2 linked regions of the Homo sapiens genome follow. The protein of the gene in region 1 purifies or fractionates together with the protein of each later gene. This does not show direct contact. Each region holds a gene or a part of one and is shown on either strand. Other genes may lie near its edges. The genes, in order: TMEM106B and VAMP7.

Region 1 (3,824 bases):
TCCTTTCCAGATCTTTTCCTAATTCAGCAGCGATTTAACCAAGAGCCTGGAATATTTTAAGGAGTAATAAGAGACATTTACAAACTATTCTCTCTGAAGCCTGCTACCTGGAGGCATCATCTAGATAATCAGAACCTTGGCTTCCACATCCTCCTCCCTTGTCTTAACTACAAACATTTCTTTCTGCTGACTTCAACTCCTCAGGTAGAGTTTAACCGTTTCAACCAATTGCCATTAGGAAATCTTTAAATCCACCTATGCACCTATGACCTGGACACCCCCCAGCCTTCCACCCCTGCTTCAAAATGTCCTGCTTTTCTGGGCTGAATTAATGTATACCTTACATCTATTGATTTATGCCTCTGCCTGTAATTTCTGTCTCCAAAATGTATAATCAAGCTGTAACCCAACTACCTTGAGGACATTTTCTCAGGACCTGTTGAGACTGTGCCTCAGGCCTTGTTCACTCATTTTTGGCTCCGAATAAATCCCTTCAAATATTTTACAGAGTTTGACTGTTCCTTGACTGTTCTAAATTAATTAGTGTAAATATCTCAGAGTGTTCTTGAATGTACTTTTTTCCCTGAAGTTTACTGTAAGATTTTTATTTTTCTTTAGACATGGGAAAGTCTCTTTCTCATTTGCCTTTGCATTCAAGCAAAGAAGATGCTTATGATGGAGTCACATCTGAAAACATGAGGAATGGACTGGTTAATAGTGAAGTCCATAATGAAGATGGAAGAAATGGAGATGTCTCTCAGTTTCCATATGTGGAATTTACAGGAAGAGATAGTGTCACCTGCCCTACTTGTCAGGGAACAGGAAGAATTCCTAGGGGTATGTGTTATTGTATTGTTTTCCCTTTAAATGATTTTAGGTATTTGCTCAAGTATTATAAAAACTGTGGGTCTCAGGAACCACCTGTTTTAGAGGACTCTTAGAATTAAAGTTGAAACATCATATCAGTTACCTTCAGTCAAAAAGATGCAAAAGAAACAAATAAAGTATTAATTAAGGTTCCTAAAGCAGTAAAGAAAACCACCTCACTACCTCCAGTATTTTTTCATTCCCACCTGCTATTATAGCAGATATTCACTGTCTTGTAAATGAAAACTTTTAGTCCTATTTGGCATCTGTAGAGATGACATCATAGTTACTTGCTACTTTGCTATATCAGATGTTAGAAGCAATTTAAGTAATTTGTTGACCTATTTTTTTTTTTTTTTTAAGAGATGAGATCTCGCAATTGTTGGCCAGGCTGGTCTTGAACTCCTGTCCTCAAGCAATCCTCCCACCTCGGCTTCCCAGAGTGCTAGGATTATAGCAGTAAGCCACCATGCCCAGCCAGAGTTAATGTGTAAGGAAGCTTATTCTTTCATGTTATTTTTAAAATTTTATTTTTTTAATAATAAGGATGGAGTTTCCCCATGTTTCCCAGGATGATGTCGAATTCTTGGGCTCAAGCGATCATCCAGCCTTGGCCTCCCAAAGTGTTAGAATTACAGCTGTGAGCCACCACGCCTGGCCAACCTAATATTTTTAATTCATTATCTAAAGAAGAAGAATAAGCTGGCTGTGCCCTAATGAGTTAAAGAAACTCTGTGAAGAGGGATGGTACGTGAAAATGAGCCAAATTGAAAAAAAAAAATTGTTTGTGATATATCATAGGGGACGTCAGAAGGAAATAATCCCCTGTGTGCTGCTTGTAAGCTACTTTAGGAACAGTGGCAATAAGTAGAAATAATAAAGATACTTTATGCTGTTCTCATTATCTTCTTGGTGAAAGTTGATGTGTGACCCTGGAGATACCCAGAGGGAAGAAGGTCAAAGTATAAAGTATACTTTGTGTACCTTTTTAAGATGCTTAAAATGTATCTTAAAATGCTGTGGGTTTGAATTGAAGTTTACATTTGCGTTGGCCTTTGAGTATGATGGTTTTATTTTCACAAGGATAGTAGCTATTTAAGAATAAAATAATTATTGTAGTTGAAGGGATTAATGCACCAGGCTCAGGGGGTAGGGGAGTACTGTTTTAGCAGTCTGGTTACATTTTTGAGGTATGACCAGTAAACTTTTTTGGCCGCCTGGATACAGATTATGGAAAGTAGGAAATCAAGGATGACTCCAGAGTTTTTTTGGGGGGGTTTGTTTGAGCAACTGAAAGAATGTAGTAGCAATTTATTAAAATTGAAAAAAAAAAGATTATTTGAGTGTATATGTCACAGGAGAGTTCAGGAGCTCAAGTTTAGACATGGATATTTGGAGATGCCTATTTGACGTGGAAGTGGATATGTTCATTAGGCAGTTAGTTATCATAAGGGTCAGGAATTCAATTGCAGCGCCCAGCCTCAAGTTACCAATGTATAGATGACACTTAAAGCTCAGCTGGATGACAGCAGCAAGCTAGTCAGTGCAGATGGCAAAAATGAGACCCTAGCGAATCCTGAGACACTGTAGCATATCAAGGTCAGTGAAAGAATTAACAAAGGACCCTGAGAAAGAAAAGTTAGAATGAGAGGAGGAAATCATTGTGTGTGGTATCATGGAAGATAAGTGAAGAAAGTGTACCAAGGAGGAAAGAGTGACCAACTGTCATATGCTACTGATAGATTGGGTAGTGTGAAGACTGAGAACTGGCCATTGGATTTGGTTATATGGAGGCCACAGAAGAGTTTAAAAGAGCGGTTTTGGTAAAGACGTGTAGCATGTATAGAGTGGGCTCAAGAGTGCATAGGAGATGTTACATAGAGAGAAAATAGATTTTCTGAGGGGTTTGGCTCCATAGCAGAGAGAAGAGAGGTAGTCATTAGAAGGGGCTGTGAGGTCAGGAGAGGGATTTTTTTTTTTCTTTGTAAGATAGAGTGAATAATAGACAGTTGTATACTGATGAGAATTATCTGTAGAGAAAACATTGGTAATTCGGGAGATAAGAGAATTATTGGAGCAATGTTCTTGAATAGACAGAAGGGCAGATCTACTGCACAAGAACAAAGAGCTGCTCTTTTTTTCTATAAAAGGTAAGTTATAAGCACAGGTGGTTTATTCTTGGTAATAAAAGAGAAGGTAAAGTATGGACACAGAAGCAGGTAGGTGGATAGATCTGATAATAGAAGCTTGTAGAAATTATCTTCCATTTATCACATAATGAACTAAGAATGAGGATAGCGAAGAAGATATTAAAGATTTGAAGAGAGTTGAAGTTATAAAATTGTGGTCTTGGAGAGTCAGCTTGAGAGTATGAACTTGGGAAATGTAGTATGATTGTTGACATCATTAAGTGCTACTTGACATGAGTGATCAAAAATGAAACCAGTGAGTGTAGTTGTGTGTTTTTCTGTGTCCATGTTTAGCTCTGTTGATATATGCATAGGAGCCAGAGGGTTGGTTTTAACCAGGGTTGTAGTTTTAGCCAGATGAATACCACTAAACAAGGTGAGATATGTAAACACACAAAGATACAGATATCCATGTTATATGTATTTGTATAATTATATATGGGTGTGATGGGGGAGCACAGATGAGAGGAAGAGTATAGATGTGTCGGGGGAAATAACAGAAGCATTTTAGAAAGCTTTTAAAGAGAACTTGACTATCTGATACCTTAATAGTTAATATGATAAGCCAACTTCTAATAAGATTATAAAATTGGCATTTAAAGGTCCATTTATCCTTTAAACTTATGGATATAGCTCAACCCAAGAAAGAAATCACGGATTTTGAAGTGACTTTAACATGGATTGGGGTGAGACCTGAAAGGGCCCTGGAAGGCTCATTATGTAGGGGGCTCTTAAAGCTTGAGACTTCTACTTCAGAGGCCGGTTTTG
Region 2 (3,824 bases), on another chromosome or scaffold:
CTCAGCCTCCCAAGTAGCTGGAATTACAGGCGTGCGCCACCACGCCTGGCTAATTTTGTATTTTTAGTAGAAACGGGGTTTCTCCATGTTGGTCAGGCTGGTCTCGAACTCCTGACCTTGGGTGATCCGCCCGCCTCAGCCTCCCAAAGTGCTGGGATTACAGGCATGAACCACTGCGCCCAGCCAAAATTAAAGTCTTATTCCATGCAGGTATCTTTCAATTGTAAATCATTACTGCAAAAGACAAATTTTGTCTTTATAACTGATTAAAAACAACAGCAGTACAAGAGTGCTTGAGTCATGACTGTCGTGAATTTAGGATGTGCCAACCTAAGATCAGCCAGATACTTCTAAGATGTAAACATTAAGCATTGTTATTTTAGGTGATTTATTGACACCTATTTCTTTATAGACAGGAATGCAAGTGCAGCACTGAATTGTGTGCCATTGCTCGTTTATAAGATACACATGTAGATGATCCAGAATATTCTTATACATTTTTCAGTGTTATCAAAATACAAATGCAGAATTAAAAGATTTCTCAAAACACATGGACTTGGCCTTTCCCCTTACTCAGTTACCTGAAACTGTCTTCAGCCTCTACTTGAAGATGCTTCTGCTGAGGAGGAGCATTTTCATCATTGCTGTTCTATGTTATTACCAAATTTTTTAATACAGGCAATTTCTTACTTACAAATGGATATATTCTAAAAGTACTGTTGTAAGCTTATTGTTTGGAACGCTGGATGCATTTCCTTCTATAAATAATGCTATCCATGACATTTACACTGTTATGCCAACCAGTATCATTTTATTAACTTTTAATTTAGTGGACTCGAAGACCTTCCCCACAATTTACAATAATTCCTCTATTAAAAAACTGCATTTATAATTCTCATTTGAATTCCCTTATAGCATATCTTTTTTTAGAAACCCAACAACTAGAACAAAAATATCCTTTCTTTAGTCCCTTAACATAGTAAAAACAGGCTTTTCTAACTCCAAACTGTTGTGGGTGACCCTTCTAGCCCTTAGCTCTAAGGACAGTCCTCCAATATGAGCAAGGAAAACGAAGGGACAGAGGTTTTAGAGAGGGAGGCAAGTTGGGTGATATGAGTATCTGGAAAGGGAAGGGTAGGATTTATTTGGGATGAACAGTGAGTTTCTAAAATGGAAGTTTGCATTGCTTGTCAGCCTTTTGGCTAAGATCAGGTGTAGTATCAGTTTAAAATGGGGGTTTGTTGTGGGTTGAATTGTGTCCTCCAGAAAGCTGTGTTGAAGTCCTAACCCGTGGTACCTGTGAATGGGATCTTATTTAGAAATAGGATCTTTGCAGATGTAATTAAGATGTAATTGAAAATGGGGTCATACTGGAGTAGAGTGGGCCCTTTATCCAATATGACTGGCATCCATATAAAAGAAGAGAGACAGAGAGAATGCAGTGTGAAGACACAGATACAGAGAACACCATGTGACTACAGAGGTAAAGATTGAAGTGCTGCACCTCCAAGCCAAGGAACACCAAGGATTGCCACCAAACTATCAGAAGCTAGAAAGAGATAAGGAAAGATTCTCTTCTACAGGTTTCAGAGGGAGCATAACCCTGCCAACATCTTGATTTTGGACTTTTAACCCTCAGAACTGGTAGGCGATACATTTCTGTTGTTTTAAGCAACCAAGTTTTTGGTACTTTATTACTGCAGCTACAAGAAACTAATACAGGATTCTTAGCAGGAATAAAGTAGAATTGGGATGGTGGCTGTGGGACCAAGTGGGGAGTGAATAGGAGAACAAAGAGGAACAGTGTTGATATGGGGCTTTCCTTTATGTTGCATTATCTTTTTTTCTTCCCTTCTCTCTCTGGCTTATCTTTTCATTCTTTTTCTTCTTGGATCTTATCTTTATATAGCACTTTATGGTTTATTAGGCATTTACATACTGCTAATAATTAGCAGAGCCAGGTTTTCTAACTTCAAGTGCAGTGTTCATTGTGCCACAATTGTTTCTGTTATCCCAATACTCATCAAGACGTTATGGATTCTATTACAAGACACTTACAATGGGGGCAGGTAAGACTTCATAGGTGGGATTTTTAGCAGTATAGCAGAGAGGAAGGAATTCCTATTAGTGACATCTGGAAGGAAAGTAAAGTTTCTGTTGCTATGTACCCACTGTTTAACAGTCATTTTTAAGTTGGGGACTGCTTTTATTGGAAGAAACACTACTTGCGTATAACTTATATTCATTGTTCCTAGTTATATTCTGAATAATGTGCTCCCTGTTCCAGGTGACTGTACTTTATATAAACTCAAAAACTATTGTCATGTTCCCTCTAAGTCCTCTCTTTCTCATGTTACATATCTCTAGTTCCTCCAGCCAGTCTTCAGATGACACAATCTCCATGTCTCTCACCCATATTGTATTGCCTCCCTTTTGTCTAGTCGTTAAATATTCTACCCAGAATTGAATTCAGTATTTTACATATGTTCTAACCAGCACAGAGTGTAATGGGACTAGTACTTAAACAGGTCAAGACACCCTATTTCTTAATGTACTTTGAGATTATGTAAGCATTTTTAAGCAATATCGCATACCGTTGGTTCATAATGAACTTACAGTCCACTGAAACACTAGATCTTTTTGTATTAATTGTTGCCAAGGTCAAGTTTCCTTCTGAACCTGCACAGGGACTGAGGCTGCTGCTACTTTTTCATCTCTCTGTTCCAGGGACCATATGATTTCTTATCTCTGTTTCTCTTTGTGTTTTTGTTCCTCTCTACTGTGTCTCTTTGACCCTAAGCAATGACCTCCTTCCTTGTTATAAAATTTCACTGATTGTTTTACAGTCTTCATTCTCTTTCTTTCCTTTCGGCTTCTGGGCCACCACACTTTTGGCTTTCCCATTTGGTCCTCCTCAGTCTTTGTGAGTCTCTATTTATCTACCTTTCCCTCAACTGTTGGTTGTGCTTTGGGTTTTATCTTTGGCACTATTTTTTTTTTCTGTATGCAATATATCTTCAGCAAATAAATCATGTTTAAAATGGCAGATCTAACTGAGCTCATCTGGGAATAAAAGGGCACAGAATCAGTCCCGGAGGAAAGTCGACATTTAGAGGTCAGGTAGAGGAGGAAGAGTCAGCAAGAAGACAAAAAGAGCAGCCAGAGATGTAGGAGCATTTCAAGAAGGAGGGTCGGTCAGCAGTGTTGACTGTGCCTAAGAGGTCAAGTAAGGTAAGAATAGAGAAGCAACCACTGTATTTTGCAATATAGAGGCTGTTGGTGACCTTAGGAAGCATGGTTTTCTGGAGTTTTAAGGGCAAAAGCTGGATTATAGTAAGTAGAAGAGTTGAAAGGAGGCAGAGGAGCAGAGATAATGCGTAACGATGCTTTGAAGAAACAGAACAGGGCCAGGTACGGTGGCTCATGCCTGTAATCCCAGCACTTTGGGAGGCCAAGGCAGGTGGATCACTTGAGCCCGGGAGTTCAAGACCAGCCTGGGTGACATGGTGAAACCCTGTCTGTACAAAAAAAAATACAAAAATAGCCGGACATGGTGGCACACACCTGTAGTCCCAGATACTCCAGAGGCTGAGGTAGGAGGATCACTTGAGCCTGATAAGTGGAGGCTGTAGTGAGCCAAGATTGTGCCACTGCACTCTAGCCTGGAGCTTGGGTGACAGAGCAAGACCCTGTCTCAAAAAAAAAAAAAAAAGAAAAGAAACAGAACAGTAGGATCCACAGTTAGGGAGGCTTTAGGATCAAGGGAGATAAAGTATAAGACAGCAATTTGGAAACTATAACTTACTGCATATGTGTAAGGAGAA

The links.
Region 2: the proteins of TMEM106B (region 1) and VAMP7 purify together in Homo sapiens (affinity purification with mass spectrometry; one large-scale study listed by BioGRID and IntAct). This does not show direct contact.

Annotation. Positions count from the first base shown.
Region 1 is NC_000007.14:12,214,191-12,218,014, forward strand, and holds part of TMEM106B (transmembrane protein 106B), read left to right. Parts: intron 1-10; exon of another isoform or gene 11-204; intron 205-618; 5' UTR 619-620; coding exon 621-837; intron 838-3,824. UniProt on the Homo sapiens protein: In neurons, involved in the transport of late endosomes/lysosomes. May be involved in dendrite morphogenesis and maintenance by regulating lysosomal trafficking.
Region 2 is NC_000023.11:155,884,242-155,888,065, forward strand, and holds part of VAMP7 (vesicle-associated membrane protein 7), read left to right. Parts: intron 1-3,824. UniProt on the Homo sapiens protein: Involved in the targeting and/or fusion of transport vesicles to their target membrane during transport of proteins from the early endosome to the lysosome. Required for heterotypic fusion of late endosomes with lysosomes and homotypic lysosomal fusion.